Regions from separate parts of the Homo sapiens genome. Here region 1 is linked to region 2. The links come from fine-mapping of genetic effects on gene expression. A gene starts in region 2. The other region holds a variant in brackets. All regions are shown on one strand. Distances are between the middles of the regions. Region 1 has its middle 16 kb from the start of SNORD13. Region 2 holds the start of RNF122 (ring finger protein 122).

What was found. PIP is the estimated chance that this variant, and not a neighbour inherited with it, causes the effect.
Region 1: its variant is fine-mapped to the expression of RNF122 in whole blood (TOPMed, PIP above 0.99).

What each region holds. Positions count from the first base shown.
Region 1 is chr8:33,520,805-33,537,166 of GRCh38, forward strand. It overlaps the pseudogene LOC100630919. Among named protein-coding and RNA genes, the nearest start is that of SNORD13, 16 kb to the left of the region's middle. The variant C/T (reference allele first, on the strand shown) is at 9,102.
Region 2 is chr8:33,558,116-33,574,477 of GRCh38, forward strand. RNF122 (ring finger protein 122) reads right to left here and starts at 9,013. Exons shown (of 6, transcript NM_024787.3): 1 at 8,584-9,013; 2 at 500-656. The coding sequence starts at 8,608. RefSeq lists an enhancer at 3,423-3,592 and silencers at 8,388-8,437, 8,578-8,627, 8,658-8,727, 8,778-8,897.

The DNA.
Region 1 (16,362 bases), 37 kb before region 2:
CATATTGTATGATTCCATTTATCTGAAATGCCCAGAATAGGCAAATCTGTAGAGTCAGAAAGTACATTAGTGGTTGCCAGGAGATAATGGGAGGGGATATTTAGAAGTTACTAATAGGCTGGGTGCGGTGGCTCATGCCTGTAATCCCAGCACTTTGAGAGGCCGAGGCAGGCGGATCACAAGGTCAGGAGTTCGAGACCAGGCTGGCTAATATGGTAAAACCCTGTCTCTACTAAAAATACAAAAATTAGCTGGGCATGGTGGCAGGCGCCTGTAGTCCCATCTATTCGGGAGGCTGAGGCAGGAGAATCGCTTGAACCCGGGAGGCAGAAGTTGCAGTGAGCCAAGATCGCGCCACTGCATTCCAGCCTGGGTGATAGAGTGAGACTCCATCTCAGGAAAAAAAAAAAAGAAGGGACTAAAATGGGTATAGGGTTTTCTTTTGGGGTGATAAAAAGGTTTTGGAATTAGCTAGTGGCAGTGGCTGCCCAACCTTACAAATATACCAAAACCTACTGAAGTGTACACTTTATTTTTTATTTTTTTGAGGCAGAGCCTCACTCTGTCACCTAGGCTGGGGTGCAGTGGTTCAATCTTGGCTCACTGCAACCTCTGCCTCCCGAGTTCAAGCAATTCTCCTGCTTCAGCATCCCAAGCAGCTGGGATTACAGGCTTGTGCCACCACACCCGGCTAATTTTTGTATTTTTTATTAGAGGTAAGGTTTTGTCATATTGGCCAGACTGGTTTCAAACTCATGGCCTCAAGTGAGCTGCCCACCTTGGCCTCCCGAAGTGCTGGGATTATGGGTGTGAGCCAGCGTGCCCAACCATTAGGTGTATATTTTATTTATTTTTTGTGTTTCTTGTTTTTTGTTTCTGAGGTGTACATTTTAAAACAGTGAAGCTGCTGGTCATGGCAGTATGTGCCTGTAATCCCAGCAACTCAGGAGACTGAGGCAGGAGGATTGCTTGAACCCAGGAGTTTGAGGCTGCAGTGAGCCATGAATGCACGATTGCACTCCAGCCTGGGAGACAGAGTGAGACCCCAACTCTAAAATAATTAAAAATAAATAAAATTGTGAATCTAGTGGTTTATGAATTAAATCTCAAAAATATTTTAGAAGTATTGGCCGGGCGTGGTGGCTCATGCCTGTAATCCCAGCACTTTTTTGGGAGGCCAAGGCGGGTGGATCACCTGAGATTGGGAGTTCAAGACCAGCCTGACCAACATGGTGAAACCGTCTCTCTATTAAAAAAATACAAAATTAGCTGGGTGTGGTGGTTCATGCCTGTAATCCCAGGTACTCCGGAGGCTGAAGCAGGAAAATCACTTGAACCTGGGAGGCAGAGGTTGCGGTGAGCCAAGATCAAGGCATTGCACTCCAGCCTGGGCAAGAAGAGTAAAACTCCATCTCAAAAAAAAAAGACAACTCTCTCTATATATATATTAGAAGTATTAAGGACCCCAAAGAGCTTTTCTTTATGTGTGATGCGTAAATATTCAGATAAATGGATTATTTTCTACATTAGAAATTAAAACTGAAAAAATTTTTAAAATACTCATTTGATTTTTAAAAACAGGTCTGGTGCGTTGGCTCATGCCTGTAATCCCAGCACTTTGAGAGGCCGCGGTGGGTGGATCACCTGAGGTCAGGAGTTCAAGACCAGTGTGGCCAACATAGCAAAACCTCATCTCTACTAAAAATTAGCTGGGCGTGGTGGCAAGCACCTGTAGTCTCAGCTTCTTGGGAGGCTGAGACAAGAGAATTGCTTGAACCTAGGAGGCGAAGGTTGCAGTGAGCCGAGATTGCGCTACTGCACTCTAGCCTAGGTGACAGAGCAAGATTCCATCTCAAGAAAAAATAAAATAAAATTTAAAAAACATAGTAATAATAAACATATTACATGTTAAGGACTTATTTTTATGAAAATAAGTATATTTTTCAAACAGCATCGTGACGAGTGATATTGTTTTACACTTTTGTCAATAGATTTGTAAAAATTTGCAACTCTGTCATATCTGGTTTAATAGGAGACAGCTGGATTTTCAGATTTGTGGCTGCATTCAATCTGTGTTGGAAAATTCTGCTGTACACGAGATAATGAGAACAAAAAGATAAACAATATATTAATATTGTTATAAAAATAGTTTTGACTTAGCAGGCTGCCTGACAGGGTCTTGGTAAGTCCCAGGAATCCAGACCACACTTTGTGAAGTATTATTAGAAACACACACAAGTATTAATTGTTGAAATGATGCAATGTCTGGGATTTGTTTTAAAATTCCCAACACTGGGCAGTAGACACTAAGCAGACCAGATTCCACTTGCTAGTGGGCATTGCTCAGCTTCCTCTGTGACTATGTCTGACAAGTCCAATATGGATGAGATCGAGAAATTCAGTAAGTCGAAACTGAAGAAGACAGAAATGCAAGAGAAAAATCCACAGCCTTCCAAGGAATGGATCGAACAGGAGAAGCAAGCAGGCTTCGTAATGAGGCGTGCATCGCCAATATGCACTGTTCATTCCACAAAGCATTGCTTTCTATTTTACTTCTTTTAGCTGTTTAACTTTGAAGGATGCAAAGAGGTCAAATCAAGTTTAAATGACTGTGCTGCCCCTTTCACATCAAAGAACTGCTGATGATGATGGCTGTGCCAGCCTCTCTTATCCGCCTGTCTGGCTGGCAGGGAAGGAAAGAACTTGCATTTTGGTGAAGGAAGAAGTGTGGTAGGATAGCAGTGAAATCTAGAATAAAACCAAGCTGGCCCAAGGCATCCTGCAGGCTGTAAAATGCAGTTTAATCAGAGTGCCATTTTTTGTGGTTATTGTTCAAATAATTTTAATTATGAGAATGCATAATTTTTTTTTTGAGACTGAGTTTTGCTCTTGTTGCCCAGGCTGGAGTGCAATGGTGCGATCTCAGCTCACTGCAACCCCACCTCCCAGGTTCAAGCAATTCTCCTGCCTCAGCCTCCCGAGTAGCTGGGATTACAGGTGCCTGCCACCATGCCCAGCTAATTTTTTTTTTGTATTTTTAGTAGAGACGGGGGTTTCACCATGTTGGCCAGGCTAGTCTTGAACTCCTGACCTCAGGAGTTCAACACCTGCCTCGGTCTCTCAAAGTGCTGGGATTACAGGTGTGAGCCACCGCGCCTGGTTCAATTTTTAAAATAGGCAAATAAAAAGTTTAAAAACTTGAAAAATAAAATTCTCCATGACAGGGGATGGTGGTGAAGGAGTGGTCAATAGCTAGATGAAAAAGATTATCAACATCTTGACAACTGTAGAAGCTGGGTGATGGATCACAGATGTCCTCTATGTTAATCTCACTTCTTTAGTGTAACTCTGAAATTGCCCATAATAAAAGTTGTTGTTATTAGCTGGGCACAGTGGCTCATGCCTGTAAGCCCAGCACTTTAGGAAGCTGAGGTGGGAGGATCACTTGAGCTCAGGAGTTTGAGACCAGCCTGGGCAACATAGTGAGACCTCATCCCTACTAAGAATAAAAAAATTAGCCGGGCGTTAGTGGCACATGCCTGTGGTCCCAGCTACTTGGGAGGCTGTGGTGGGGGGATCGCTTGAGCCAAGGAGGTCAAAGCTGCAATGAGCTGTAATCATACCACTGCACTCCAGCCTGGGTGACAGAGCAGGTTGCTGTCTCAAAACAAAACAAAACAAAAACAAAAAAATTGTTGTTATTGCCCTTATTTCAATCAATGCTTATTTAGCAGAACAAAAGACCTGGAGGTAGTTGGTAGGAGGAAAAACCAAGTTAGGGACTGGATATGTAAAGATGCAAAGATAAATTAGATACAGTTCCTGCATTCAACAGGTTTTCATCTGACGAGGGGAAACTGATACATAGCTGGAAAGAACTATAAGGAAGACATCTGATAAAGAACCCATCATATTTAATGAGCACCAGGCACTCTGCTGAGGGCCTTACATGCACTTCCTCCTCAAGGCAACCCTCTCAGACTCGCATCATTATCTCCATCTTGCAGAGGAGGAAACTGAAGCTCTGAGAAGTTGAGTAACTCGCCCAAGATCTCACAGCGGAAAGTGGTAGAGCTGCAACTTACACTTCGGTTTGTTGACTCCAAAGCCTGTGCTTTTCATGGCTCCACCCTTTCTTTCTAAACCTTTCAGTTACACAATCCTGGAACATCACTGTCACTGTGTACCACATAAATGGCACTCATCAGAGGCCCTGCTGGCGACCTAAAGGAGCCCACAGTCTTTAGAGAACAAAAAATATTATCAGCCAGGTTGGTCTTTACACTGTACCTATGTCCTCATTCAATCCTCACAATTTAAACTCATGGAGTAGGGGCTAGGCGGGGTGGCTCACACCTCTAATCCCAGCACTTTGGGAGACCGAGATAGGCGGATTGCTTGAGGTCAGGAGTTCGAGACCAGCTTGGCCAACATGGTGAAACCCTGTCTACTAAAAATATAAAAATTAGCCGGGCATGGTGGTGGGTGCCTGTAGTCCCAGCTACTTGGGAGGCTGAGGCAGGAAAATTGCTTGAAACTGGGAGGCAGAGGTTGCTGTGAGCCAAGATCACACCACTGCCCACCAGCCTGGGCGACAGAGTGAGGCTCTGTCTCAAAAAAAAAAAAAAAAAAAAAATTCATGGAGTAGGCATTTCTGTTCAAGTTTGCCTTTCTTTTCTTGACTCTCTTCCTCAAGGTTTTGGAAAGCAACATCTCTTAAAAAGAATAATAAATTCAATGGCAACTCTCCTGTAACTAGCAAATGCAAATAACCATATGTAAGGATATGGATTCAAGACCATAAAGATAAAGAAGTAGGTTTATCACATCACTATTCATAATGCAGAAATGTGAAAACAGTGAAAGCTTGCTCATCGATGGCACATCCACACTGGGGAATTCTCCAGCCATTTTTTTTTTTTTTTTTTAAGAATGACATGGAGCTAAGCCAGATGTCAAGGAGAGGTTTCCATAAGGTACTGTTAAATGGTGAATGTAAGATTTAACAGGCTAGGTGTGGTGGCTCACGCCTGTAATTCCAGCATTTTGGGAGGCTGAGGTGGGTGGATCACTTGTGGTCAGGAGTTCGAGACCAGCCTGGCCAACATGGTGAAACCCCATCTCTACTAAAAATACAAAAATTAGCTGTGCGTGTTGGTACACACCTGTAATCCCAGCTGCTCGGGAGGCTGAGGCACAAGAGTCACTTGAACCTGGGAGGCAGAGGTTGCAGTGAGCTAATATTGTGCCACTGCACTCCAGCCTGGGCGACAGAGTGAGACTCTGTCTCAAAAATAAATAAATAAATAAATAAATAATAATAAAGATACCATGAGTGCTTGTTTACAAAACTATGATTTAAGAAGTGACTGCTCAGCCGGGTGCAGTGGCTCATGCCTATAATCCCAGCATTTTGAGAGGCCAAGGCAGGTGGATCTCCTGAGGTCAGGAGTTTGAGACCAGCCTGGCCAAAATGGCAAAATACTGTCTTTACCAAAAATACAAAAAATTAGCTGGGCATGCTGGCATGCACCTATAATCCCAGCTACTTGGGATGCTGAGGTGGGAGGATCGCTGGAGCCTGAGAGACAGAGGTTGCAGTGAACTGAGATCGCACCACTGCACTCCAGCCTGGGCAACAGAGCCAGACTCTGTCCTCCCTCTCCCCTCAAAAAAGAAGTGAATGCTCTGTATGTGTAGACTCATATATATATGTGTAGGTATAAGATTACCTGAGTAAAGAGGAAACATGGGAGGATACATCCCAGGTTCTCGGTGTGGATGGGTGACCTTGGGCAAATGGTGTTGACATAGGGGAAGGGAGGAGGAGAGGAAGATGGGGGGCTCAGCAAAACAAAAGGAAAGAAAAAAAAGCACTTTTTTTTTTTTACAAAGCATATATGTTACTATATTTAGGTAGTTAGGTAAAATTATGTATGAATGTGATTATGATAAAGATTACATTTTAAAGTATTTCCTTTAAAAAGAAACGGAAGGCTGAAATAAATTCCTGGGAATTGATGACTAAATGGTAAGCAATACGTCTTAGCTTTCCAAAGACCATATGATCAACAATTTTAGATGAAGATTTCTTCATAAGGATAAACAAAAGTGAGAGAAAGTAAAAAAGGAAGTATTTGCTCCCCTTCATTCTACGAATAACAAACTAATGGAATTGAAGCGTGACAAATACACCAACTACAGCTTTCAAGGTTCATGTGGTCTAAACATGGTTAATAATAGGAGTTTGAAACACACTGTAAGGGCTGGCCGCGGTGCCTTACGCCTGTAATCCCGGCACTTTGGGAGGCCAAGGGGGACCGATCACGAGGTCAGGAGTTGGAGACCAGCCTGACCAACATGATGAAACCACGTCTCTATTAAAAATACAAAAATTAGCCAGGCGTGGTGGCACACGCCTGTAATCCCAGCTACTTGGGAGGCTGAGGCAGGAGAATCACTTGAACCCAGGAGGTGGAGGTTGCAGTGAGCCGAGATTGTGCCATTGCACTCCAGCCTGGGCAACAGAATGAGACTCAGTTTCAAAAAATAAAAAAATAAAGAAACACACAGTAAGATAATTACTGCTTGCAGCAGAGCTACTTTTCTGATTATAGGCCAAATGGAAAAATAATATTACAATATTTATCATCCTTGAATGCCTGCTAAGATTGAGGGAACCACTATATTCTTTTGCATATGAGGCTATAAAATTTTTTAAAATAAAAATTTAATATATATATTTTTCCGTAGAGGTGGGGTTTCACTATGTTGCCCAGACTGGTCTCAAACTTCTGGGCTCAAGGGAGCCACCTGCCTCAGCCTCCCAAAGTGCTGAGATTACAGGCATGAGCCACTGCGCTCAGCCTACAAAATTTTTAACGTGGATTATGAAGGTTAGTTTAGGCTCAGGGATATACTAATAATTTTAAAGAATATTCTAATATACTAAACATTTTATTTTATTTATTTATTTATTTATTTATTTGAGACAAAGTCTCGCTCTGTCACCAGACTGGAGGGCAGTGGCGTGATCTCAGCCCACTGCAACCTCCGCCTCCCGGGTTCAAGCAATTCTCCTGCCTCAGCCTCCCGAGTAGTGGGATTACACGTGCATGCCACCACACCCAGCTAATTTTTGTATTTTTAGTAGAGACGAGGTTTCACCATGTTGGCCAGGATGGTCTCGATCTCTTGACCTCATGATCCACCCGCCTCGGCCTCCCAAATTGTTGGGATTACAGGCGTAACATGTTTTTAAATTTGTAGAACAAGCACCAAGTGAAACCAAAATATTTTCAAACAATGTAGACAGCTATATAAACAAAAAAATCTTGTAAATACAAAATAGTCATCAAAGTAACAAAAGTCATATCCATGCTGAACATTTGACTCCAGGTGTCTGCTTTGACTTGGATACAAACACATCACATTGCTAACATTCCCTTACTCCTTCTACAATGATAGGATTGCTTAGCTTCCTTTTCCCTTTTCTTTCTTTTCTTTTTTCTTTTTTTTTTTTTTTTTTGGAGACAGAGTCTCACTCTGTGGCCCAGGCTGGAGTGCAGTGGCATGATTTCGGCTCACTGCAACCTCCACCTCCTGGGTTCAAGCGATTCTCGTGCCACAGCCTCCCTAGAAGCTGCGATTAACAGGCACCTGCCACCATGCCCGGCGAATTTTTTGTATTTGTAGTAAAGATGGGGTTTCGTCATGTTGGCCAGGCTGGTCTCAAACTCCTGGCCTCAACAGAGCTGCCCACTTTGGCCTCCCAAAGTGCTGGGTTGGCAGGCGTGAGCCACCATGCCCAGCTAGCTTCCTTTTCATTCTGTTTTCAGTTTAATATTTGTACAAGTATTTAGCCGGGCGCGGTGGCTCACTCCTGTAATCCCAGCACTTTAGGAGGCAGAGGCAGGCGGATCATGAGGTCAGGAGTTCGAGGCCAACATTGGTGAAACACTCATGTCTGTAATCCGAGCACTTTGAGAGTCCAAGGCAGGAGGATCTCTTGAGCCTGGGAATTCAAGACCAGCCTGGGTAATGTAGTGCGACCCCGTCTCTGTTTTTAAAACAATTTAAAAAAGAAACATTCCAGGATAACTCTAATTTCCAAAAAAAAAAAAAAAAAAGAAAACTAAAACTTAAGAAACATCAAAAAATAAAAAATTTTTAAAAGATGAGTGGATAATTGGGGACAACAGGTGTGGATTTGTTGTGGTTTTTTGATTTGTTTTTTAGAGGGTCTTACTCTGTCACCCAGGCTGGAGTGCAATGGCATGATCATGGCTCACTGCAGCCTTTAACTCCTGGTCTCAAGTGATCCTCCCACCTCAGCCTACCAAGTAGCTGGGACTACAGGTGTGCAGCACCATGCACAGTGAATACTTTTTACTTTGTAGAGATGGGGTCTCCCTAATTGCCAGGTTGTTCTTGAACTCCTGGGCTCAAACAGCCCTTCTCCTTTGGCCTCCCAGAGCACTGCGATTATAGGCATGAGCCACTGAGCCCAGCCTGTTTTTGTTTTAAGACATTTTGCTGAGCAGAGAAATAGCAATTGCTGGAGAGAAATATGGCATATAGAAAATTTCAACAATGAAATTGAATATTTTGGAGCACTAGAGTAAAAAAGTGTGGTCTTATCCTTTGGGTAAGATGTTCTTAGATAATGTATTACCTACCCTAATCAAAAACACTTGTAAAAATATTCTTTCTTTTTTTTTTTTTTTTTTTTTTTTTTTTTTTTTTTTTGAGACAGAGTTTCGCTCCTGTTGCCTAGGCTGTAGTGCAATGGCACAATCTTGGCTCACTGCAACCTCCATCTCCTGGGCTCAAGCAATTCTCCTGCCTCAGCCTCCCGAGTAGCTGGGATTACAGGCACACACCACCATGCCCGGCTATTTTTTGTATTTTCAGTAGAGATGGGGTTTCACCATACTGACCAGGCTAGTCTCAAACTCCTGACCTCAGGTGATTCTCCCGCCTCGGCCTCCCAAAGTGCTGGGATTACAGGCGTGAGCCACTGCGCCCAGCTATTTATTTATTTTTTGAGGTGGAGTTTCACTCTGTTGCACAGGCTGGAGTACAGTGGCACAATATCTGCT[C/T]CCTGCAATCTTCAGCTCCCGGGTTCAAACAATTCTCACACTTCAGCCTCCCAAGTAGCTGGGACTACAGGCATGTGCCACCACTCCTGACTACTGTTTTGTATTTTTAGTAGAGACAGGGTTTCACTGTCTTGGCCAGCCTGGCCACAAGTGATCCGCCTGCCTTGGCCTCCCAAAGCACTGGGATTACAGGTGCTCTTGATGTTATTTTTAATTTGTTCCTCTATCTAACCCATTTCCTGTAAAGGGGTGGTTGGATCTAGAGATAAAATGAAATTTAGGATCAGCCTTGGGGGTGGGGCTGTATACTTCTTACTGTATCACAGGAGGCATGTGATGTCTGATTGTCCCACTTTTACTAATGATAAGACAGATTGATCTGTTACAAAAGTCTCCATCAATCTTTCCCCTGGTGTCTACAGGAGCCATGAATAATCACTGCTTAATTTTGTTACTTCATTAGAGTTACAAAATGGCAATTTCCTAATTCTGTTATTTCCTTTTGCATCTTTACCTGGAACTCTGCTTTAAATAGAACTTTCCCCCAGCAACCAGTTATCTGATCACCCTGAATACAATTTGCACAGGAAAAGCAGGATAAATGCTTGATTTTTTCCTTTCATTAGCCAGTTTTTAGAATAATGAATTTAGTGCCTTAGTGACCTTCAATGAATACCTGATATTTGGTGGTTGTTCTTGTTAGTTTTTATTTTATTTTATTTATTTTTATTTTGTGGAGACAGGGTCTCACTATGTTGCCCAGACTGGTCTACTAACTCCTGGGCTCAAGCAATCCTCCCACTTCAGTCTCCCAAAGTGCTGGGATTTGGGAGGCATGAGCCATTGACACCCAGCCCGTTCTTACTAGTTTTATATGATCTTAAGGAATTTTATACATTTAATGAGTTTTATTCCATTGTAATTATTCTTGTTATACTCAAATCGTCCCATCTTTTGCCAATGGGGGTCTTTTCATTTTGGCTTCTGTGTCCTATTAACATGACTCAGTAGTCATGGATTGCTTCTTTCCTTTCTAGAATGGCAAGGTTGAAGCAACCATGTCTCCAAGAATCCCTAATTCCTTGTAAGGGGAAAGGCTATTTAAGGGCTACAATTTGAAGAGTGAGATGCCATTGCTCTTGAATTCGTATTGATTTTAGTTTTCTAGGTCTCGGTGGATGACACATCTAGGAAATATATGCTCTTTAAAAGCAGAAAAAAATCATAAATTTGTATTAATATTTCCAATTCAGATTTAAGATTTCAGGCTTATACTTCTTTAAAATGAGACTTGTATCTCTCCTCTCTTTTACTGCCCAGGTTGGAGGGCAATGGCACAATCTCGGCTCACTGAAACCTCTGCCTCCCAGGTTCAAGCTATTCTCTTGCCTCAGCCTCCCAAGTAGCTGGGATTACAGGAGCGTGCCACCACGCCCAGCTAATTTTTTTCTGTATTTTTAGTAGAGACGGGGTTTCACTATGTTGGCCAGGATGGTCTCCATCTCTTGACCTTGTGATCCGCCCATCTTGGCCTCCCAAAGTGCTGGGATTACAGATGTGAGCCACCGCGCCCGGCCAAAAATCTTGATTCATAATAACATTAATGTAATTACTTATTTGCTTTATTCTAAAATATACACATAAAGGTATTAAAATAGCAATATTGTTATTACTAAACATAAGATTACCTGGGCGTGGTGGCTCATGTCTGTGATCCCAGTATTTTGGGAGGCTGAGGTGGGCAGATTACCTGAGGTCAGGAGTTAGAGACCAGTCTGGCAAACACTGGTGGAACCCCACCTGTACTAAAAATACAAAAATTAGCCAGGTGTGATGGCATGTGCCTGTAGTCCCAGCTACTTTGTAGGCTGAGGCAGGAGAATCAGTTGAACCCAGGAGGCAGAGGTTGCAGTGAGCCAAGATCGCACCACTGCACTCCAGCCTGGGTGACAGAAAGAGACTCCGACTCAAAGAAAAAGAAAGAAAGAAAAAAACATGAGATTATTGAATATAATTTAAGACTTCTTTGCTATTTGTTTTTGTCTTTAGGGTACACTGAGTAAATAATTGCAATCAGCTGGGCATGGTGGCTCGCTCCTGTAATCCCAGCACTTTGGAAGGTCAAGGCAGGAAGATTGCTTGAGGCCAGGTGTTTGAGACCGGCCTGAGCAACATAGCTAGACCACCCCCACCATCTCTACAAAAAGTAAAATTAGCCAGGTGAGATGGCACATGTCTATAGTCCCAGCTACCTGGGAGGTTGAGGCAGGAGGATCACTTGAGCCCAGGAGGTTGAGGCTGCTTGAGCCATGATTGGGCCACTGCATTCCAGCCTGAGTGACAGAGCGAGGCCCTGTCTCAAATAATAATAATTTCAATCAAATGTTATGTTTCAAGTTACTTGAAATAGGCTTCTTTTCTATATAGCTGTGATATTCATTTTAGATGTCGACTCAACTGGGTCAAGGAATACCCAGATAGCTGGTCAAGGAATACCCAGAAAGCATTATTTCTGGTTATGTCTGTGAGGGTGTTTCCGGAAGAGATTGGCATTTGAATCAGTGATTGAGTAAGGAAGAGCTACCTGATGTGGGCAGGCATCATCTAATTTGTTGAGGGCCTGGATAGAATAACAAGTCAGAGGAAAGTCTAATTCACTCTGTCTTCTGGAGCTGGGACACCCATTTTCTCCTGCCTTTGGACATATGAACTCTAGCTTCTCAGGCCTTCAGACTCTGGGACTTACACCAGGAGCCCACAGGTTCTCAGGCCTTCGGACTCAGACTGAATTATGCCACTGGCTTCCCTGGTTCTCCAGCTTGCAGATGGTATATCATGGGGCTTCTCAGCCTCCATAGTCATGTGAACCAGTTCCCCTAATACATCCCCTCTTATCTACCTATCTGGAAAATTCTGACTTATACAATGGCTATGTGAGGACCTTGATATACGTTTATATGCATTTTTGTTTCTTTTCAATTTTCTAGGAATGGCTTGTCTCTTCTCATATATTATTATTTTTCTTTGTAGAGATAGGGTCTTGCTGTGTTGCCCAGGCTGATCTTGAATTCCTGGTCTCAAGTGATCCTCCTGCCTCAGCCTCCTAAAGTGCTGGGATTACAGGCATGAGCCAGTGTATCCTGCTCATTCACTGTTCAACACACTCAATTTTTCCTTCACCCCATGAATCCAGCAAAACTGCTTTTGCTCAGGCCCCCAGTAGCCTCCTCATTGCCAAATTCAATGGAGTGAAGTGGTATGCCCTCGACTCACTGCAACCTCCGCCTCCTGGGTTCAAGCACTTCTCGTGCCTCAGCCTCCCAAGTAGCTGGGATTACAGGTGTGCACCACACACCTGGCTAATTTTTGTATTTTTAGTAGACATGGGGTTTCACCGTGTTGGCCAGGCTGGTTTTGAACTCCTGACCTGAGGTGATTGGCCTACCGGGGCCTTCCAAAGGGCTGGGATTACAAGCATGAGATAATGCGCCCGCCCTGCCCGGCTCATTCTTTTTTTTTTTTTTTTTTTTTTTTTTGAAACAAAGTCTTACTTTGTTACAGTAGGTAGCTGGTCAGGCATGAGCAGGGCAGGAGAGGGCTCCGCCCAACACACACAAATATCAGGAATATCAGGCAACCATCAGGTGATGATCAGGCAGTTGTTAACTGTCTTTCTAAAATAGTAATTGGTCACAGCCAGTGCCAGGGAAAGGCAGTGTCCTAATACATGGAAAACACATGAAATGTGATCAGTGGCTTCTTGAGAAGACCTCAGGGGTTGGGCAAGTGGGCTCAGGAATGTGCCTGCAGACAGCCCACCCCAAGGGATGAATCAGGGGAGAAGTAACAAGACCGCAGAAGCATGCCAGCGTATAAAACCCCAAGTCAAAAGGTCAAACCGCACACTTGTCTTTCAAGTCACACACTTGGTCCTCGTCCAAGTGTAGGTTCTTTCCCTCCTTTTATTCCTGCTCTAAAGCTTTTCAATAAACTTTCACTCCTGCTCTAAAACTTGCCTTGGTTTCTCCTTTTGCCTTAGGTCCCTCGGTTGAATTCTTTCTTCTGAGGAAGCAAGATTTGAGGTTGCTGCAGACCCCTACAAATTGGCCTTGTCTAACATATTTTGGTGCCATGTGACTCGGATACCTTCCACCAGTAACAACTCTGTTGTCCAAACTAGGGTGCAGTGGCGCAACCATGGCTCACTGCAGCCTTGACCTCCCAGGTTCAAGGGAGCGATCCTCCTACCTTAGCCTCCTGGGCAGCTAGGACTATAGGCACATGGCCCAATGCCTGGCTAATTTTTTGTATTATTTTATATATATATATATATATATATATATATATATATATATATATACACACATATATATATATATATATATATATATATGTATATGTATATTTTGTAGAGATGGGGGTTTCACCATGTTGCCCAGGCTGGTCTTGAACTTCTGGCCTCAAGCGATCCTTCTGCCTCAGCCTTCCAAAGTGCTGGGATCACAGGCATGAGCCACTGTGCCCGGCCTATTTTCCATGAGCCACTGTGCCCGGCCTATTTTCCATTCTGGTACACAATTCCATTTCCAATAAAAACTTAACCCAGATAATGTCACTTTTCTGCTACAGTCCTATTATCAAAAGTTAGAATTCCCTAACATGGCTACTAGGCCCTCCCTGATCTGCTGCTGTGTCTCTTTGACCTCATTTGTACCTCCCTTCCCCATCTCTCACTAAGCTTAATTACATGGGATGTGTTCACCAACAGCCCAAGCTCTATTCTCTCTCAATTTCTTTTCTTTTCTTTTCTTTTCTTTTCTTTTTTGTGAGATGAAGTTTTGCTCTTGTTGCCCAGAATGGAGTGCAATGGTGTGATCTCGGCTCACTGCAACCTCCGCCTCCCAGGTTCAAGCGATTCTTCTGCCTCAGCCTCCCGAGTAGCTGGGACTACAGGCGCCTGCCACCACGCCTGGCTAATTTTTTTGTATTTTTAATAGAGATGGGGTTTTGCCATGTTGGCCAGGCTGGTCTTGAACGCCTGACCTCAGGTGATCCGCCCGCCTGGCCTCCCAAAGTGCTGGGATTACAGGCGTGAGCCACCACCCCCGGCCCTCAATTTCTTTCTTTTTTTTTTTTCCTCAATTTCTTACATACACTCTTCTGTCTGGCCTTTCCCTACCTCTTGTCATTCTTGTGCTCTGAGCTTAAATGTCTCTTGCTCAGAAAAGACCTTCCTTGTCCATCCCTCTCCTCTGGTTTTACGAAGGTAGTCACTGGATACCTTACGATGGTTGGTCCATGTATTAAATATATGAGTATGCTTGTTTAGGCTTCATCTCCCCCATTAGACTGTAAACATCTTGGGAGTAGGAGCCATTTTGGTCTTGCTCATTGGCACAATGCCTGGCATGTAGTAGGCACTCAATATGTGTTGGCTGTTTAATAAGTTTGAGAAGTTTGATTCTAAGTACAATCATCCACATCAGACTTCTCTACAAATTGTATATTCAGTGGGCATCAGCTCTGCCCAGTGAAAGAAAGCAAACCCGGAATGCAGTGCTTGTGACTTAGTACAGGCTCAGTAAGGGACAGCTGTATTAATTGGGATAATGGCAGGGGAGGGATATACACAAACTTCCTTATTTCTTACAGACTTTTCACTTAGTCCCCTTGTTTAGTTGCATGGCTTCCTATGACCTTATTTTATTTATTTTTATTTTATTTTATTGATTCATTTTTTTTTGAGACAGAGTCTCGCTTTGTCACCCAGGCTGGAGTGCACTGGTGCAATCTCGGCTCACTGCAACCTCTGCCTCCCAAATTCAGGTGATTCTCCTGCCTCAGCCTCCTGAGTAGCTGGGACTACAGGCGCATGCCACCATGCCCGGCTAGTTTTTGTATTTTCAGTAGAGACGGGGTTTCACCATGTTGGCCAGGATGGTCTCGATCTCCTGACCTCGTGATCCACCCGCCTCAGCCTCCCAAGGTGCTGAGATTACAGGTGTGAACAACTGCGCCCTGCCCCCTGTGACTTTAGAAACAAAAATAGCATGACTTCAAGTCTTTCATATACACTTTTTTATGTACTCTTCTTAATCACACTCTGAGGCAGTTACTATATCTCCATTTTACAGAGGAGAAAAAGGAGGCTTAGAGAGATTAAGGAACTAGGCTGAGGTCTCCTGGCTAATTAGAGGCAGAGCTGGGTTTAAAACCCATTCTTTGAATTCCAGGGCTAGCTTTGTTTATTCCACACTACAAATTAATCTCATAATGAGGCGTAGAAGGGAAAGATCCCATGTTTTCCCAAACACAGCCACATTTCATCACTGACTCTTGTCAGTGAACCTTTTGTTCCTCAAATACTAGGAACAAAAATCATTCATTTGGAACTGTTCTTTCTTCCTCTGTACGTGCTTCGTGCATTTCTCTTTGTAAACAAGACTTTAAATAAATTACTTCTAGGCCAGGAGCAAGGGCTTATGCCTGTAATCCCAGCAATCTGGGAGTCCAAGGCAGGAGCATCACTTGAGGCCAGGAGTTTGACACCAGCCTGGGCAAAAAATCGAGACCCCCATCTCTACTAAAAAATAATAATAAGAAGAAAACCAAAGAAATTACTTCTAATTGTTTTATTCTATAGGCACATCTCACTTAAACTTATTTACATGCAGATCTTAGTGTTTTAAAGTCTATAAATTAAGTAAAAAACTCCTTAAGTCTCATTTTAGAGAGGTTTTAGTTGTAAAAAGGCTCGACATAGACTTCTTTAGATAATGAAAACCCCTGGCATGTTTCAGGCAATTATTCAATTCAATGTGCACAGCTTCCAGAACACAGAATGCAGAGATGCCCAGAATTAATGGTCTGGCAGCAAGTCTGTTTCTCATGTTTTCCAATCTGAATGTATAAATTTTTAATCTTACAAACCTGTAATGAATGTGTTGGATTACTGTCTTTGCTCTATTGTCAGCATATAAAGAGACTCAGCTTCTTGGCAGAATGATTAAGTTAAGGATATTGCATTCTAACCACAAGGAAACACAGATCTCCTCCTTGTCAGCATTCTTCCTTCCAAAAAGGTTGCTTAAAGTGGTGCTTAAAAGATAATTCTATCCTAAAACACAGTGACTTAGGAAAAAAAAAAAGAGAGAAATAAATAAAGATAATTCTAGCTTACTAAATTTAGGGTGTGGAAAAAGTCCAAAATGAGAATATTCACTGGGTAATTGTGCAAGGAATGTTAATATGTGTGATAAAG
Region 2 (16,362 bases):
CTCAAAAAAACAAAACAAAACAAAAACCAAGTAGCTCTCTAGACACCGGCTTGCTTCCTAATATTAGTATCTGGAGGGCTGACAACAGGTCCCAGGAGGGCAAAGGAACATGACGCTGGCATAACTGATGCCCACCTGTTCCCGACCACCCAAAGGGCATGAGTAGGAATAGAGACAGACAGACAAGGAAGGGACCACTAACTTTATTACTCAGTCACACAGTAATTCTAGGCAACCTTAGAATAATTGGCGAGGAGGTGGGATGCAGCCCAACCCGTGGTGACCTTATATGCTCAGGAACAACTTGATAGGCTAATGTAAATAGAAACACCAGATCCTCAGGGGCCTAGAGAAGGGCAGGCTCAGCCGTGTCCTCAAAGTGGTGGCTCCAGTATAAGACTGGTGACTCTGCTGTGGGACCCTCGCTCAGCTTACCCCACAACCCTGGTCTCCTCCCTCCTGCTGGACTCCCACCCCGGTCAGCCAGGGATCCACGCACCTGATAAAATAGCAGCAGAAGATAAGGCTGAGCATGAAGACAAAGATGCCTGTGCCGAAGATGACCATATAGATGTTGAGCGGAAGGTCCTGGAAACTGATGGGTGGCATCGAGCAGGACTTGTTGGTGCTAACCAGTCCCAGGCCACAGAAACACCCTGCAAAGGGAGAGAAAAAAAAATCATTAGGGTTGGAAATTTACTGCTGGGCTGATAGCACTGTGTCAGCAGGATAGAAATAACTGGCAGGCTCTGGGCACCTAAGCCTCAGATTCAGTGGCTCCAGTTTTATATCCTAGTTCTAACATTTACTAGCTATGTAATCTTGAGTAAATCTGATCTACAAAATTGAATACTATCCAAAATACTTAAAACAATATCCCCATCTAAGGGACAATAAATTCAGGCAAGCTGGGTGTGGTGGCTCATGCCTGTAATCCCAGTACTTTGGAGAGGCTGAGGCAGGTGATCTCGAGGCCAAGAGTTCAAGAACAGCCTGGCCAACATAAGACCCCATCTCTAAAAAAAAATAGAAAAATTAGCTAGGCATGGTAGCGCATGTACTACCATGTAGTCCCAGCTACTCAGGAAGCTGAGGTGGGAGGATCACTTGAGCCCAGGAGTACAAGGCTGCAATGAGCGGTGATTACACCACTGCACACCAGCCTGGGTGACAGCGTGAGACCCAATCTCTATTTTTAAAAATTAAAAAAAAAAAAGAATTTAGGCAATGGGCAGAAACTGGAGAGCTTAATTCCATTAGGTAGGAGCCCATATTGCCTTAGCTGAGAAAATATTATTTGGGTTCCAACTCCCCCATCCCTAGCTAGCCATATGACCGTTAAGAAATTACCTCTAAGCTTCACTTTGTTATATGAAAACAAGCAAAATAGAGAGAGGAATGAAAATGAGCGCATAAGAAAATATGCTTTGTAAATTGCAAAGGACAATTGCAAAGGTCATTTGTCATTATTAAGCCACCTGTTCCAGAAGACAAGCCATGCCAGGACTAGAATAGAAATTATTCACTCCAAGTCCTGGGCCAGCATTCCAGAAAGTGGCGATGGGGGTGGGGAGGAGGTTGCAACTTCCCTTACTGTGGTCACCTTCCCTCTTTCTCCTCAAAGTCTCAATGTGTGGTACCAATGGCAGCAGCATCCTCTGGGAGCTTTTTAGAAACATATACTCTCGGGTCCATCCCTGCCTAACTGAATCAGGACCTACGCTGTTTTTTTTTTTTTTTTTTTTAAACAGAGTCTTGCTCTGTCACCCAGGCTGGAGGGCAGTGGCGTGATCTTGGCTCACTGCAAACCCCGCCTCCCAGGTTCAAGCGATTCTCCTGCCTCAGCCTCCCGAGTAGCTGGGATTATAGGCGCACGCCACCATGCCCGGCTAATTTTTGAATTTTTAGTAGAGATGGGGTTTCACCATGTTGCCCAGGCTGGTCTCGAACTCTTGACCTCAGGCGATCCACCCACTTTGGCCTCCCATGGTGCTGGGATTACAGGCATGAGCCACGGCACCTAGCCAGGACCTACGTTTTAACAAGCTCCTCAGGTGATTCCCCTGCACATTCAGTTTGAAAAGCACTGGCCAGCCACTAGATGCATCCCTTCTCACAGGACTCAGGGATAAATACTGACTGGCCTACTCATCATGATAGTCACCTCTCCCTTCCCCCCTTGCCAGTATTTGGTGTTCAGGTGGGTACGTAACCAGGTTCTGAGCAAAGAAACAAAGAGATCTGCTGGAAAAGGAACTTTGCTTGTTTGTTTTTGGAGACAAGGTCTCACTCTGTCCCTGCAGGCTGGAGTGCAGTGGTGTAAACATGCCTCACTGTATCCTCCAACTCCTGGCCTCAATGAGATCCTCCTGCCTCAGCCCCACAAAGGGCTGGGACTATAAGCATGAGCCACTGCACCCGGCAGGTTCTTTTTTTCCTTTTTTTTTTTGTGAGGGGGGTCATGTCTCTCAGAGACACCTAGAATTGTGATAGCCAAGCTGTAGCTGGAAAGAGCAGCTCAGTAGAAAGTCAAATGCTTGACCAGGCATGGTGTCTCACGCCTGTAATCCCAGTACTTTGGGAGCCCGAGACGGCTGGATGGCTTGAGGTCAGGAGTTTGAGATCAGCCTGGCCAACATGGTGAAACTCCATCTCTATTAAAAAATTAGCTGGGCATGGTTGCACACATCTGTAATCCCAGCTACTCGGGAGGTTGAGGTAGGAGAATCACTTGAACCTGGGAGGTGGAGGTTGCAAGTGAGCTGACATCGTGCCACTGTATTCCAGCCTTGGAGACAGAGCAAGACTCCATCTAAAAACAAAAACAAAAACAAAACAAAAAAAGTCAAATGGCTGAGGATGGCAGAAGGGAAAGGGAAAGAGGGGAGTCCTTGATGAAAGGGAGAGCTGGAATTTGCTGTTCACCTGCTGCATCCTAAGCACATTCTCATGCTATCAATTTAATCTTTGTACTGCCACAGTAAAGGTTACTTCCCCCCGCCAATGGGAAAAAGACTCAATCATTTAGTAACTCGCCCACAGTCAAACAGCTAGGAAAGCCCAGCTCCAAAGGGTTCTCTGTACCCAGGCCTTGGGTTCTAGGCACTTTCCTGACATCTTGGTTAGGAGCCAGGATGCATTCACATGCCACAGAATTCTATACGCTAATAACCAGTGCTACTACAACTCAGCAGAAGGTGGCTTGAAAGACTGGAAGTCAACTTGGACATCAGTCCTCCTCATCCCTTACTGATGACTATATAACGAGCCTCCATTCAAACCTCTTTCAGGCTGTGCCCAATTCTACTGCCACAGCCCTATTGTAAACACTCATCACCTCCTACTGTTTCCTAGTTGATGTCATCCCTGTTTCTAGTTCCTTCTCTCATTTACCCCACACGCCTGACACATCCTCCTAGTTGCCTTTTTTTTTTTAATTTTTTTTTAGACAGTCTTGCATTGTGTCACCCAGGCTAGAGTGCAGTGGCACTATCTTGGCTCACTGCAACCTCTGCCTCCTGGGTTCAAGTGATCCTTCTACCTCAGCTTCCTGAGTAGCTAGGACTATAGGTGTACACCACCACGCCCAGCTAGTTTTTGTATTTCTAGTACAGACTGGGTTTCACCATGTTGGACAGTCTGGTCTTGAACACCTGACCTCAAGTGATCCACCCGTCTTGGCCTCCCAAGAAAGTGCTGGGATTACAGCGCATAAGCCACTGTGCCCCGCCCTCTCCTTGTCGTTTTGATCTTGTATTTTACAAACTCATGACTGGCTTCAAGTCCTCCTAAAACATTCACCCTGTCCCTTCACAACTTCCTACTTAAAAGTTCTCCAATACTACTCCATGTGGGCCAGTCTTTTTCACTATTTCTTGTACAATCTTGTCCTTGCCTGCTTCCCTGTCTTTGTTTACACAGCTTTCCCTGCCTGAAACGCTCTCTCTGAGGCCCATCAAGCCTGTGATAGTCCAATAACCTCTCTTCCTTCAATTCTACAGCACTCATGACCTCCATCATTTGTTCGGCCCCTACTTACTCAGTTAACTGTCTTACATCGTTCCTAGCATTAAGTTACTTTAACTCAAATGTGCATTAAGCATTGATTATATGGTAAGTACTATTAAAAGAAAGCACAGGCCGGGTGTGGTGGCTCACACCTGTAACTCCAGCATTTTGGGAGGCTGAGGCAGGAGGACCGCTTGAGGCCAGAAGTTCAAGACTAACCTAGGCAACATAGTAAGACCCCCACCTCTACAAATAATAATAATGATAAATTAGCTGGGTGTGGTGGTAAGTGCCTATAATCCCAGCTACTCAGGAGGCTGAGATGGGAGAATCACTTGAGTCTGAGAGGTCGAGGCTGCAGTGAGCCACAATTGCACCACTGCACTTAGCATGGGCCAGAGTAAGACCTTGTCTCAAAAAAAAAAAAGAAAAAGAAAAAAAAAAGATTAGATGATCTGATGATCTTACCACATAGGAAAAAAAGACACAAAGATTTTCACCATAGAAAGTGAGGCTCAGGCCAGGTGCAGTGACTCACGCCTGTAATCCCAACACTTTGGGAGGCTGAGGTAGGCAGATCACCTGAGGTCGGGAGTTCAAGACCAACCTGGCTAACATGGTGAAACACCATCTCTACTAAAATACAAAAATTAGCTGGGTTTGGTGTCTGGCACCCGTAATCCCAGCTACTCGGGAGGCTGAGGCAGGAGAATTACTTCGACCTGGGAAGCGGAGGTTGCAGTGAGCGGAGATCACACCACTGCACTCTAGCCTGGGCAACAGAGAGAGACTCCCGTCTCTAAACAAAACAAAACAAAAAACCTGGGCATGGTGGTGCACACCTGTAGTCCCAGTTACTCGGGAGGCTGGAGCAGGAGAATTGGTTGAACCCGGGAGGCAGAGGCTGCAGTGAGCTGAGGCAGAGGCTGCAGTGAGCTGAGATGGCGCCACTGTGCCCCAGCCTGGGCGACAGAGTGAGACTCAAGAAAAAAAGAAAAAAAAAAAAAAGCCTGAACCCTCCTAGGTTTGCTGACTCCAACTTGGACTTTTGTATATTCTCCAGTGTCCGGCCTAGCCTAGAGTTTGGCTTGTTCTCAATAACTAGTTAACAGATAAATAATTCCCCATTTTCTTAAAATAACCTGGTCCCCTTGGCAAAACCTCCCACTTCAAAGCAGCAGGACTGATGTTTGGGAAAATTGCCCAGAAACTGCCCTCCGCTAATGGATCACCAGTCAACCAGCAAGTATTATTGAGGGCTTGCTTTATGCACTGACCTACACATTGTGGGAAAACAGAAAGTAGAAGTTCTTGTTGTGAAAGACTTTTTGATTAAGTTGAAATGAAAGAAATAATTAGCTACTAAACTTTGCTGTGCCCAACAGGAAGTTCCTTGTGTCTAGGCTCTAGTAGGGGTTAGAGAGAAAGTGCTTTTCACCACCAGTCCCCACCCAAATATTTACTTTCTGTGGGTCAAAGAAGAACAATTTTCCATGAGGACATCATGGCAGACTGGCTAGAGTGACAAACTTCAGTCTATGCTGGAAAAGGGGCTCAGGACTTCCCTTCCAACAAGACCTGGTGCTCCCAGCTGTTTTCTCACCTCCTTCCCCCGCACTATTTGATGTTACAAGAGGGTCTAACCCCCCGTTTCCTTAGTTCTTCCAGGCACCTTTTATGAGCTGAAACCTCCTTTGGTTTCCAGTTCTGGGAACTTGCAGAACCTGGTCAGAGCTATTACAGAGGATATCTGTGCACTCCACAAGCACGATGGTCCCCGCAAGTCCTCTGATCAGTTTATCCCCACCAACTTATCCTGCCTGATAAAGGCTTCCCCTTTATCTCCCACTGATTGAATCAGTGAGCTTGGTATTTCACGTGATAAAGAGGTCGGTGGGAAGAGCATAGTCAAGAGGAGATGGTTCATTTGCTTGTGTTACTATTAAAGAAATGGCAAAATAGTCTACTGGTCAAAAGCTGACACTGTAGTAAGTTTTTCTTTAAAACTGTATAAGGACAGAGAATACCAGCCCCAGGAAAGAGGGGCTCCAGGTAGTTTCTGAAGGGGTGAGGGAAGGGTTGCTTCTTCACAGGAGTCAAAGGACAGGATCTCTCAGTCACTTTTCTAAGAAGTGCAAAGAGGGCCAGACAAGGTGGCTCCTGCAGGTAATTCCAGCATTTTGAGAGTCCGTGGTGGGAGGACTGCTTGAGCCCAGGAGTTCAAGACCAGCATAGGCAATGTAGTGAAACCCTATCCCCAAAAAGTAGATTAATTAATTAATTAATTAAAAATTAGCCAGTAGCCAGGTATGGTTGCACACACCTGTGGTTCCAGCTATGCTGGGAGGCTGAGGCAGGAGGATCCCTTCAGCCTGGGAGTTGGAGGCCGCAGTGAGCCCTGATCGTGCCACTGCACTCCAGCATGGTTGTCGGAGTGAGACCCTCTCTCAAAAAAAAAATTAAAGTAGGCTGGGCGCAGTGGCTCACGCCTGTAATCCCAGCACTTTGGGAGGCTGAGGTGGGCAGATCACCTGAGGTCAAAAGTTCAAGACCAGTCTGAACAACATGGAGAAACCCCCTCTCTACTAAAAATACAAAATTAGCCGGCCATGGTGGCACATGCCTGTAATCCCAGGTACTCGGGAAGCTGAGGCAGGAGAACCGCTTGAACCCGGGAGGCGGAGGTTGTGGTGAGCCGAGATCACACCATTGCACTCCAGCCTGGACAACAAGAGCGAAACTCAGTCTCAAAAAAATAAAAAATAAAAAATAAAAAAAATAAAGCAGCAAGTCTAAAATCTGATATGAAAGGGCGCTGCCCAGAAAGGGCAGTGTTACTGACAGCTGCCTCATTTCTCCCTAAGTCTCTGTTCCATTGTCTCGGCCAACCTATGAAAGCACTGACATCAGAATGTCTCATCTCATCTGGCAGGCTGGGAGCAGGAATGACGTCAGACAAGGGCTGGCCAAGAAAGACCAGGGGATCTGGGAACTGCTTCTCTTTCCCAGCCAACGGGAATCTTTCCCAGATGCTAGGGTGCAAGGGCCTTCCTCAACCCCCATCCTCTGCCCCCTCTCCCACAAAACCGCCTATCACACACGGCTTGGTTCATTTTCAGGAAATGAGATCCGACCAGCAAAAGGAGGAAGGCGGGGTGGGGGGATGTGGGGTATACATGCTACCCAAACCCTGCCTCAAAACAAAGCCTCTTGACATAATTAATCCAAGATCTGGCAGGAGTCTACTCTAAAGAATGATTTTTTTCCCCCTGTAACTAGCTCGCTTGCCATACTGAGAGATAAGGCCAGCTGCTTCCCATCTCTCTCTCCCAGAAACTCTCCAAGCATCGGAACAACGCGGTCAAGACTAGGACCCCAGGAGGACTGGAGCGGGTGGGGTGGGGGGCGATTAGTATCCAAGGTTTTGAAGTGTCCCGCTCAGAAACACCTACCTTTCAGGTAGCTCGCTGAGGAATCAGACTCCAGCCTAACCCAGTATCACCTGAACCTCCAAAAAGCCTCAGGTGAAATGAACTAACTTAGAAGCATCACCCAGGCCTGGGGAGAAATGGGGCGAGGGGTTGTCGCGTCTGGAGGTGTGGCCTTCACTTGGGCTCAGGAGCAGACACCCTAATCTGGCCTTGTGGCCAGAAACACGGCTCCCGCCAGGCCAGCCTCGCACCCCAGGGACAGCCGGGCGCGGAGCTCTCTGCGAGGGTTTATCAACTCAGGAAAACGGCTTTTTTTTAGATGGAGTTTCGCTCTTGTTGCCCAGGCTGGAGTGTAATGGCACGATCTAGGCTCACTGCAATCTCCGCCTCCTGGGTTCAAGCGATTCTCCTGCCTCAGCCTCCCAAGTAGCTGGGCTTACAGGCATGCGCCACCACTCCCGGCTAATTTTGTATTTTTAGTAGAGACGGAGTTTCTCCATGTTGGTTAGGCTGGTCTCGAACTCCCGACTTCAGGTGATCCGCCCGCCTCGGCCTCCCAAAGTGCTGGGATTACAGGCGTGAGCCACCGCGCCTGGCCGAAAGCGACTCTTTAATCCAGTCTTCCGCAAGCACCCAAGCCACGCCAGCAGCCCGTGGGAAACCAACAAAGCCAGAGGAAGCTACCCCCGCGCCCAGTCCCGCACGCTGCACGGTATACATATTTACAATAGCCTGCAAAGTTTCAGGCCGGGAACTTGAGCTCCCTCTAGGAGATCCCAGCCCGAGTGCGGATTTAATTCTCCTCCAACAACCACAACAAAGAACAGAGTTTGAGCGCACAAAGGCAGGGGAAGGGGGTAGAAGAGCCGGGCCGCCACACAAAGGCCGGGAACCCCTCGGCTCCCACGCCCCCGGCCCGCCGCCAGTCCGGAGGCCCCTTCCAGGCTCTGGAGTGAAACCTGGATAGTTTCAAATTCCGCGCTGTGCAGAGCAGAGTGGGGCGCCAAGACGCCTTCTCGACTGTCCCATTTCAGGAGAAACTTGGTTCCCGAGGGAGGACCAGCGCGCTGCTGTCCGACCTCGCACCCCGCGCCGCGGCTCCCACCAGCCCCACGTAGGCTCGGCCCTCGCCCCGGGGACTCACCGTTACACCACTGGAATGGGTGCATCAATGAAGTCGCGGTTGGCTTCCTCGGGCGAACGGACGCAGGCGGGGTGCCAGGAGGGCGGGGTGGGAGCACTAGCGGCGTGAGGGGCCGCAGGCGGGGTCGGGGCAGCGCGCTGCAGCCGCCCTGCTGGAGAAGCCGAACTCCCTCCGGAGTGGGGGGCTTTGACGAGGCTGGTGTTCAGCCCAACAAAGAGGGACGAGGAGGAAACAAACAAAGTCCCGCGGAGCACAGCCGCACGGAGCGCACGCGCCAAGGGCCCCGGGCTGGGGGAATGTGGGGCGCCGCGGGGCGGGGGTGCCCGGGCTGCAGAAGCCCTCGGCCGGGGGAGGAGGGAAAAACCTTTGCCGGAGGCTCGGATCGGGTTCAGCGGCGCAGAGGTGAGCTGGCTGGGGTTCCGAAACTGACACCCGGCGGTGCACACCCCCTCCCTTTTACTTCCCCCACCAGTCCCCAGGAAAACTCCGCCCCTTGTTCGTCACCCTCCCTCCGACCAATCGGAGCCTTTCTCCTGCCCCCGGCTATTATTTGCAGGCCCAGCCTCCCTTCCCTGGAAGCCGGGAGGATCTTCGCACGGTGGGCGCCTCCCACTTAGTCTTCCCAGGCCTGGGGAAACTTCGGTCTGCAGAGAATGGAGCGGCGACGAGCGATGCCCCGGAGTGGGGGCCTGCCTTTTGCCCAGGGACACCAAGGCAAAGGAACAATTACTGCCACATTGTTTTCCGCCTACAGATCTGTTATTTATTTACTTATGTATTTGGAGGCAGAGTCTGCCTCTATCGCCAAGGCTGGAGTGCAGCGGCGCGATCTCAGCTCACTGCAACCTCTGCCTCTCGGGTTCAGGTGATTCTCCTGCCTCAGCCTCCTGAGTAGCTGGGATTACAGGCGCTTACCACCATGCCCAGATAATTTTTGTATTTTTAATAGCGACGGGGTTTCGCCATGTTGGACAGGCTGTTCTCGAACTCCTGGCCTCAAGTGATCCTCCTGCTTCAGCCTTCCAAAGTGCTGGGATTATAGGCGTGAGCCACCGCTCCCGGCCCTCTTTTTCTTTTTTGAGTTAGAGTCTTGCTCTGTCACTCAGCTGGAGTGCAGCGGTGCAATAATAGCTTACTGCAGCCTCCAACTTCTGGGCCCAAGCAGTCCTGCCACCTTAGCCTCCCAAGAAACTGGGACCACAGGTGCCTGCCACCAAGCCCAGCTACTTTTTAATTGTTTTGTATAGATGAGTGGCCTCACTATGTTGCTCAGGCTGGTCTCGAACTCCTGGACTCAAGTGATCCTCCCGCCTGAGCCTCCCAGATTGCTGGGATTACAGGCATGAGCCATGGCACCCAGGACATTTCATTTCTTAATTGGATAATTGCAAAAGCTTCCTAACTGGCCATTCTGATTCTAGTCTATAGCTCAGACTTCAGAGCCTACAAGAATCACTCCTATGTTTGAGATGTAACATGCAGATTCCCAGGCCTTGAACCCAGAGATTCTGATTCAATAAAGGGTGGACCCAGAAATTTTCATTTTAATGTGCCTTGTCTTCCCCACCCCTCAAATTCTCATGCGGCTATTGAAAGAAACAGTGCTCTGATTTCACTCTCAAGTCCATCCCTTCTGGTCACAATTATCTCTGTAAAATGTAAATCTGAACATTTCTTTGCTTGATAACGTTTGTTGGTCTCCAGTGTTTACTGAATAAAGTTCTGTAAACTAGAGTGTGGCATTCAAAATGTTTCAGTCTAGACTCACTCCTATAATCTCAAAACTTCGGGAGGCTGAGGCGGGCAGATTGCTTGAGCTCAAGAGTTTGAGACCATCCTGGGCAACATGGTGAAGCCACCTGTAAAAAAAATACAAAAATTAGCTGGGCCTGGTGGTGCGCACCTGCGGTCCCAGCTACTCTGGTGGCTGAGGTGGGAGAATCACTGGAGTTCGAGAAGTCGAGGATGCAGCTGCAGTGAGCTGTGATTGTGCCACTGCACTCCAGCCTGGGCGACAGAATGAGACTACTCTGTTTCAAAAAGAAAAAAGAAAAAACTATTAAAATAAAGTGTTTCAGTCTAGCCTTATTTGTTTCAGTCTTCCTCATACTCAAATACTCCCCTTCACCACACACTATTCATCAGCCATGAAGCTTTTTGTTGTTACTCTTCCTTGAACATAGGCTGTGTATATTCTTTTTTGTTGTTGTTTTTATTTATTTAGAGACAAGGTCTGGTTCTGTTGCCCAGGTTTGAATGCAGTTGCATGATCTTGGCTCACTACAACCTCCACCTCCTGGGTTCAAGCCATCCTCCCACCTCAGCCTCCTGAGTAGCTGGCACTACAGGCACTCACCACTATGCCCGGCTAATTTTTTTTTTTTTTTTTTTTTTGTAGAGACTGGGTTTAGCCACGTTGCCCAGGCTGGTCACAAACTCATGAGCTCAGGCTATCTGCCTGCTTCAGCCTCCCAAGTGCTAGGATTAATGGGGGAGGCTATACATGTGTGGGGCTGGGGGTGTATCAGAACTCTGTACCTTCTTCTCAATTTTGCTGTGAACCTAAAACTACGCTGAAAAATAAAGTCTTTAAAAAAAAAAGTGTGCATAATGGTAACTATTGTTCTTTCTATTCATTGGCTCGGGGGAGAGATGTGATGGGTAATCCTAATTTTATTAAGGCTCTCCTGCTAACTGCCTCCAGCGCCAGACTGTGAAAGAAGGAGAGCCTTTGAAGGGAAAATTGATGGGAAGTGAGGAACACCTCCCGTCCCACTCGCCTTTGGACTAGAGGTTCTTGGAAGGAAAACACCCTTAAAGGTAGGAATGATGGAAATTCTTCTTTTTTTGAAACGGAGTCTTGCTCTGTGTCGCCCAGGCTGGAGTGCAGTGGCTTGATCTCAGCTCACTGCAGCCTTCGCCTCCCAGGTTCAAGTGATTCTCCTGCCTCAGCCTCCTGAGCAGCTAGGATTACAGGTGCAACAATTTATATTTTAAGCCTGATATTTTAAGCATTCAATAAGATCTCCAGAGGCACTTAAGGACTCCAATTTCGAAAAACTGCTGTATCCCTTCACACTCTCCTCCCTTCGTCCCTCCTGGCCAGTGTGGCCACAGGACCTCAACTGATGGCTGACATTGGGAGTTATATGTTGGTAGAAGGGCTTTGGTTCTGGGCATCTTTGAAATGATTGGTTCAGTCCCAGCATTTTCCTGGACTGAAGGGTTCTATGAAAGATAAGCTGATTTCTCACACCATGTCAACCAAATTTAGATCTCTCACTCCTCCACCCTCACCACCAGGTGACTCAGCTCCACATGAGTCAGGAAGACTAGTTTGGTTTATTGAGGAAGAAACTGAAACAGTAAAGAAGATGATGGGCCATATATTCAAAGCTACTTGATAAATATGAGGTAGAAATATGTTTCTAGGATGGGTGTGGTAGCTCACACCTCAGCACTTTGAGAGGTTGAGGTGAAGGAGCTTGAGCCAGGAGTTGGAGACCAGCCTGGACAACATAGCAAGACCCCATCTCTACAAAAAATAAACATCAGCTGGGCATGGCGGCACATGCCTGTAGTCCCAGCTACTCCAGAGGCTGAGGTGTTCAAGGCTGCAGTGAGCTATGATTGTGCCACTAGACACTAGCCTGAGCAACAGAGCAAGACAAAAGAAAAGAAAAGAAAGAAATATGTTTTAAAATCTTCCATGGAAAGGGAAAAAATAATACTAAACTTCCGGAAAAACTTTTTTTTAAAATTAATTAATTTTTTTATACAGGGTCTTGCTCTGTCACCCAGTGGTGCAGTGGTGACATCTCGGCTCACTGCAACTTCCACCTCCCAGGCTCAAGCGATCCTCCCACCTCAGCCTCCCGACCAGCTGGGACTACAGGCGCATACTACCATGCCTGGCTAATTTTCTGGGGTTTCGCCATGTTGCCCAGGCTGGTCTCAAACTCTTGAACTCAGGCAATCCCTCAGCCTTGGCCTCCCAAAGTGCTGGGATTACAGGCAGGAGCCACCGTGCCTGGCCTAGGAAAGCTTCTGAGGAGTCAAGGGATTCTTTTTATTCCCACTGCCTGACTCCAGCTTCCTCTTAGACACTCCGTGAGCCCCCTCATTTTAAGGCCTTGTGAACATTAGAGAAACACTCTGGAGAGAAGCAGTCAATTCTGTGGAGGTGCATGGGGGAAAAGGCCTGAATCACCTCCTTTCATCTTTAGTAAGACACCCTCTTTCATGGGCCTCCAAGTGTGACCCGATAATGTAGCAGAGAATGGTAACCATGGATGGTTGTAAAAAATGATAAATGGCTGGGGGCCATGGCTCATGCCTGTAATCCCAGCACTTTGGGAGGCCAAGGTAGGCAGATCACTTGAGCTCAGGAGTTCAAGACCAGCCTGGGTAACATGGCAAAACCCCATCTCTACAAAAAGTACAAAAATTAGCTGGGCATAGTGGAGTGCACTTGTAGTCCCAGCTATTCAGGAAGCTGAGGCAGGAGGATGGCTTGAGCCTGGGAGGCAGAGGTTGCAGTGAGCTGAGATTGTGCCACTGCACTCCAGCCTGGGTGACAGGGTGAGACCCAGTTCCCTGCCCTCCCACCAAAAAAACGATAAATAACCCCAAGTAAACATGTCATGTTTCAGAATTAGACAAATTGTGACAATATTTTCCCAAACTTTTAAATTTTGTATAAGAAGCATTTTCAGGCCAGGCACGGTGGCTCACGCCTGTAATCCCAGCACTTTGGGAGGCCGAGGCAGGCGGATCACGAGGTCAGGAGATCGAGACCATCCTGGCTAACACAGTGAAATGCTGTCTCTACTAAAAATACAAAAAATTAGTTGGGCGTGGTGGCGGGCGCCTGTAGTCCCAGCCACTTGGGAGGCTGAGGCAGGAGAATGGCGTGAAGCCAGGAGGCGGAGCTTGCAGTGAGCCGAGATCGCGCCACTGCACTCCAGCCTGGGCGACAGAGCAAGACTCCGTCTCAAAAAAAAAAAAAAAAAAAAAAAAGAAGCGTTTTCATGGGAGGGGCATGTAATTCTTTGAAGGTGTTGAGAGTCGTGCATTGTATATTGGGCAAATGAAGCCTTCGCGTTTTCTTTTTATTTTTTTTTTGAGACAGGATCTTGCTCTGTCTCCCCGGCTGCAATTTTTATTCTTGGAAGATCTAGCCTTCTTCTGTCCAGATACCCTAGAAGTCTCAGTAACAGGAATTTTTTTTTTTTTTTTTTTTTGAGACAGAGTTTTGCTCTTGTTGCCCAGGGCTGGAGTGCAATGGCGCAATCTCGGCTCACCGCAACCTCCGCCTACCGGGTTCAAGTGATTCGCCTGCCTCAGCCTCCTGAGTAGCTGGGATTACAGGCATGCACCACCACGCCTGGCTAATTTTGTATTTTTCGTATGTTGGTTAGGCTGGTCTCGAACTCCCGACCTCAGGTGATCCGCCTGCCTCGGCCTCCCAAAATGCTGGGATTATAGGCATGAGCCACCGCGCCTGGCCAGTACCTAGGTTTTTTTAGGGGATCGATGCAACTCTTGGCCAAAGGTGTTCATAATCTACCCAGCAATGCCCCCAGGTCCTAGTCTGTGGTTCTCCAGGAAAGCAAAGCAGCAATTTCCCACCCTTCCTGTCAGCTCGAAAACCACGTGGAAAGTGCAATCAGAGAAAAAGGCATTGGTGTGACTAAGGAGGAAAACACTTTGTCTCTCCAGAAGCTGGGGCAGTTCTGGGATGGTGCCAGGGGCTTTTATTAATTAAAGTATTTCTTTAGGGAATGCTCTGATGCTTTTCCTAAGTGTCAGCAGAGGCTGGGAGGAAACAAAGGCTATGGAGTTCAGGCGTACCTGGTTTCCCAGGAATTCCGCATAGTCCTGCTACGTTTTGCTTTCTGGAACGAAGCCAACAGTCTGGCCACAGCTGAACCATCTCATGTATGAATGAGAGTGGAGATTTGAGAAAAAAGTGAAGGAGAGGAGAAGACCACCTTTTACTGACCACCCCTATCTGTGCCAAGCCCTGTGCTCAGGTCTTTGGATAGTTTTATTTATTCCTTATCATAACCATTAAGGGATTATCTTTTTTCTATTTTTCTATAAGGTAAAATCAAAGCCCAAGAAGACTAGGTTTCACCAAAAATCACATAATTCTTGCCTAACAAAGATGAGCAAATAAAAGAAAAATCACATAATTCTTTTTTTCTTTTTTTGAGAAAGGGTCTCGCTCTGTCACCAAGGCTGGAGTGCAGTGGCACCATCTTGGCTCACTGCAACCTCCACCTCCTGGGTTCAAGCAATAATCCTGCCTCAGCCTCCCAAGCAAGTAGCTGAGACTACAGGTGCCCTCCACCACGCCCAGCTAATTTTTGTATTTTTAGTAGAGATGGGGTTTCACCCTGTTGGCCAGGCTGGTCTTGAACTCCTGACCTCAGGTGATCCACTCACCACGGCCTTCCAAAGTGCTGGGATCACAAGTGTGAGCCATGATGCCCTGCCGAAAATCAGACAATTCTTAAGTGTTGGTGCCAGAACTCCAACCAATCTCAGTCTCTCTCCATAAAGCACACATTTTCCCCAGCACTAGTTCAGTGATTAAGAGTAAGGCTTGGGGGAGGGATAGCACTAGGAGGAATACCTAATATAGGTGATGGGTTGATGGGTGTAGCAAACCACCATGGCACATGTATACCTGTGTAACAAACCTGCACATTCTACACATGTACCCCAGAACTTAAAGTATAATTTTTAAAAAAAAATCTAAAAAAAAAAGAGTAAGGCTTGGGACCAGGCACAGTGGCTCATGCTTGTAATTCCAACACTTTGAGAGGCCGAGGTGGGTGGATCACCCACTGGGAGTTTGAGACCAGCCTGGCCAATGTGGTGAAAAAACCCTGTCTCTACTAAAAATAAAAAAATTAGCCAGGCATGGTGGCAGGTGCCTATAATCCCAGCTACTTGGGAGGCTGAGGCACAAGAATTGCTTGATCTTGGGAGGTGGAAGTTGTAGCTAGGTGAGATTGAGAGGTGACAGCGTGCTGGCAGTCCTCAGAGCCCTCGCTTGCTCTCAGCACCTCCCCTGCCTGGGCTCCCACTTTGGTGGCATTTGAGGAGCCCTTCAGTACCCCACTGCACTGTGGGAGCCCCTTTCTGGGCTGGCCAAGGCCGGAGCCCACTCCCTCAGCCTGCAGGGAGGTGTGGAGGGAGAGACACGAGCGGGAACCGGGGCTGTGTGCGGCACTTGCGGGCCAGCTGGAGTTCTGGGTGGATGTGGGCTTGGTGGGCCCCGCACTCGGAGCCGCCAGCCAGCCCTGCTGGCCCCGGGCAATGGGGAACTTAGCACCCGGGCCAGTGGCTGCGGAGGGTGTACCGAGTCCCCCAGCAGTGCTGTCCCACCGGCGCTGCGCTCGATTTCTCGCCGGGCCTTGGCTGCCTTCCCACAGGGCAGGGCTCGGGACCTGCAGCCCGCCATGCCTGAGCCTCCCACCCACTCCATGGGCTCCTGTGCGGCCCGAGCTTCCCCGACGAGCGCCACCCTCTGCTCCACGGCGCGCAGTCCCATCGACCACCCAGGGGCTGAGCAATGCGAGCGCACGGCGCAGGACTAGCAGGCAGCTCCACCTGCAGCCCCTGTGCGGGATCCATCAAGTGAAGCCAGCTGGGCTCCTGAGTCTGGTGGGGACGTGGAGAGTCTTTATATCTAGCTCAGGAATTGTAAATACACCAATCAGCACCCTGTGTTTAGTTCAAGGTTTGTGAGTGCACCAATCGACACTC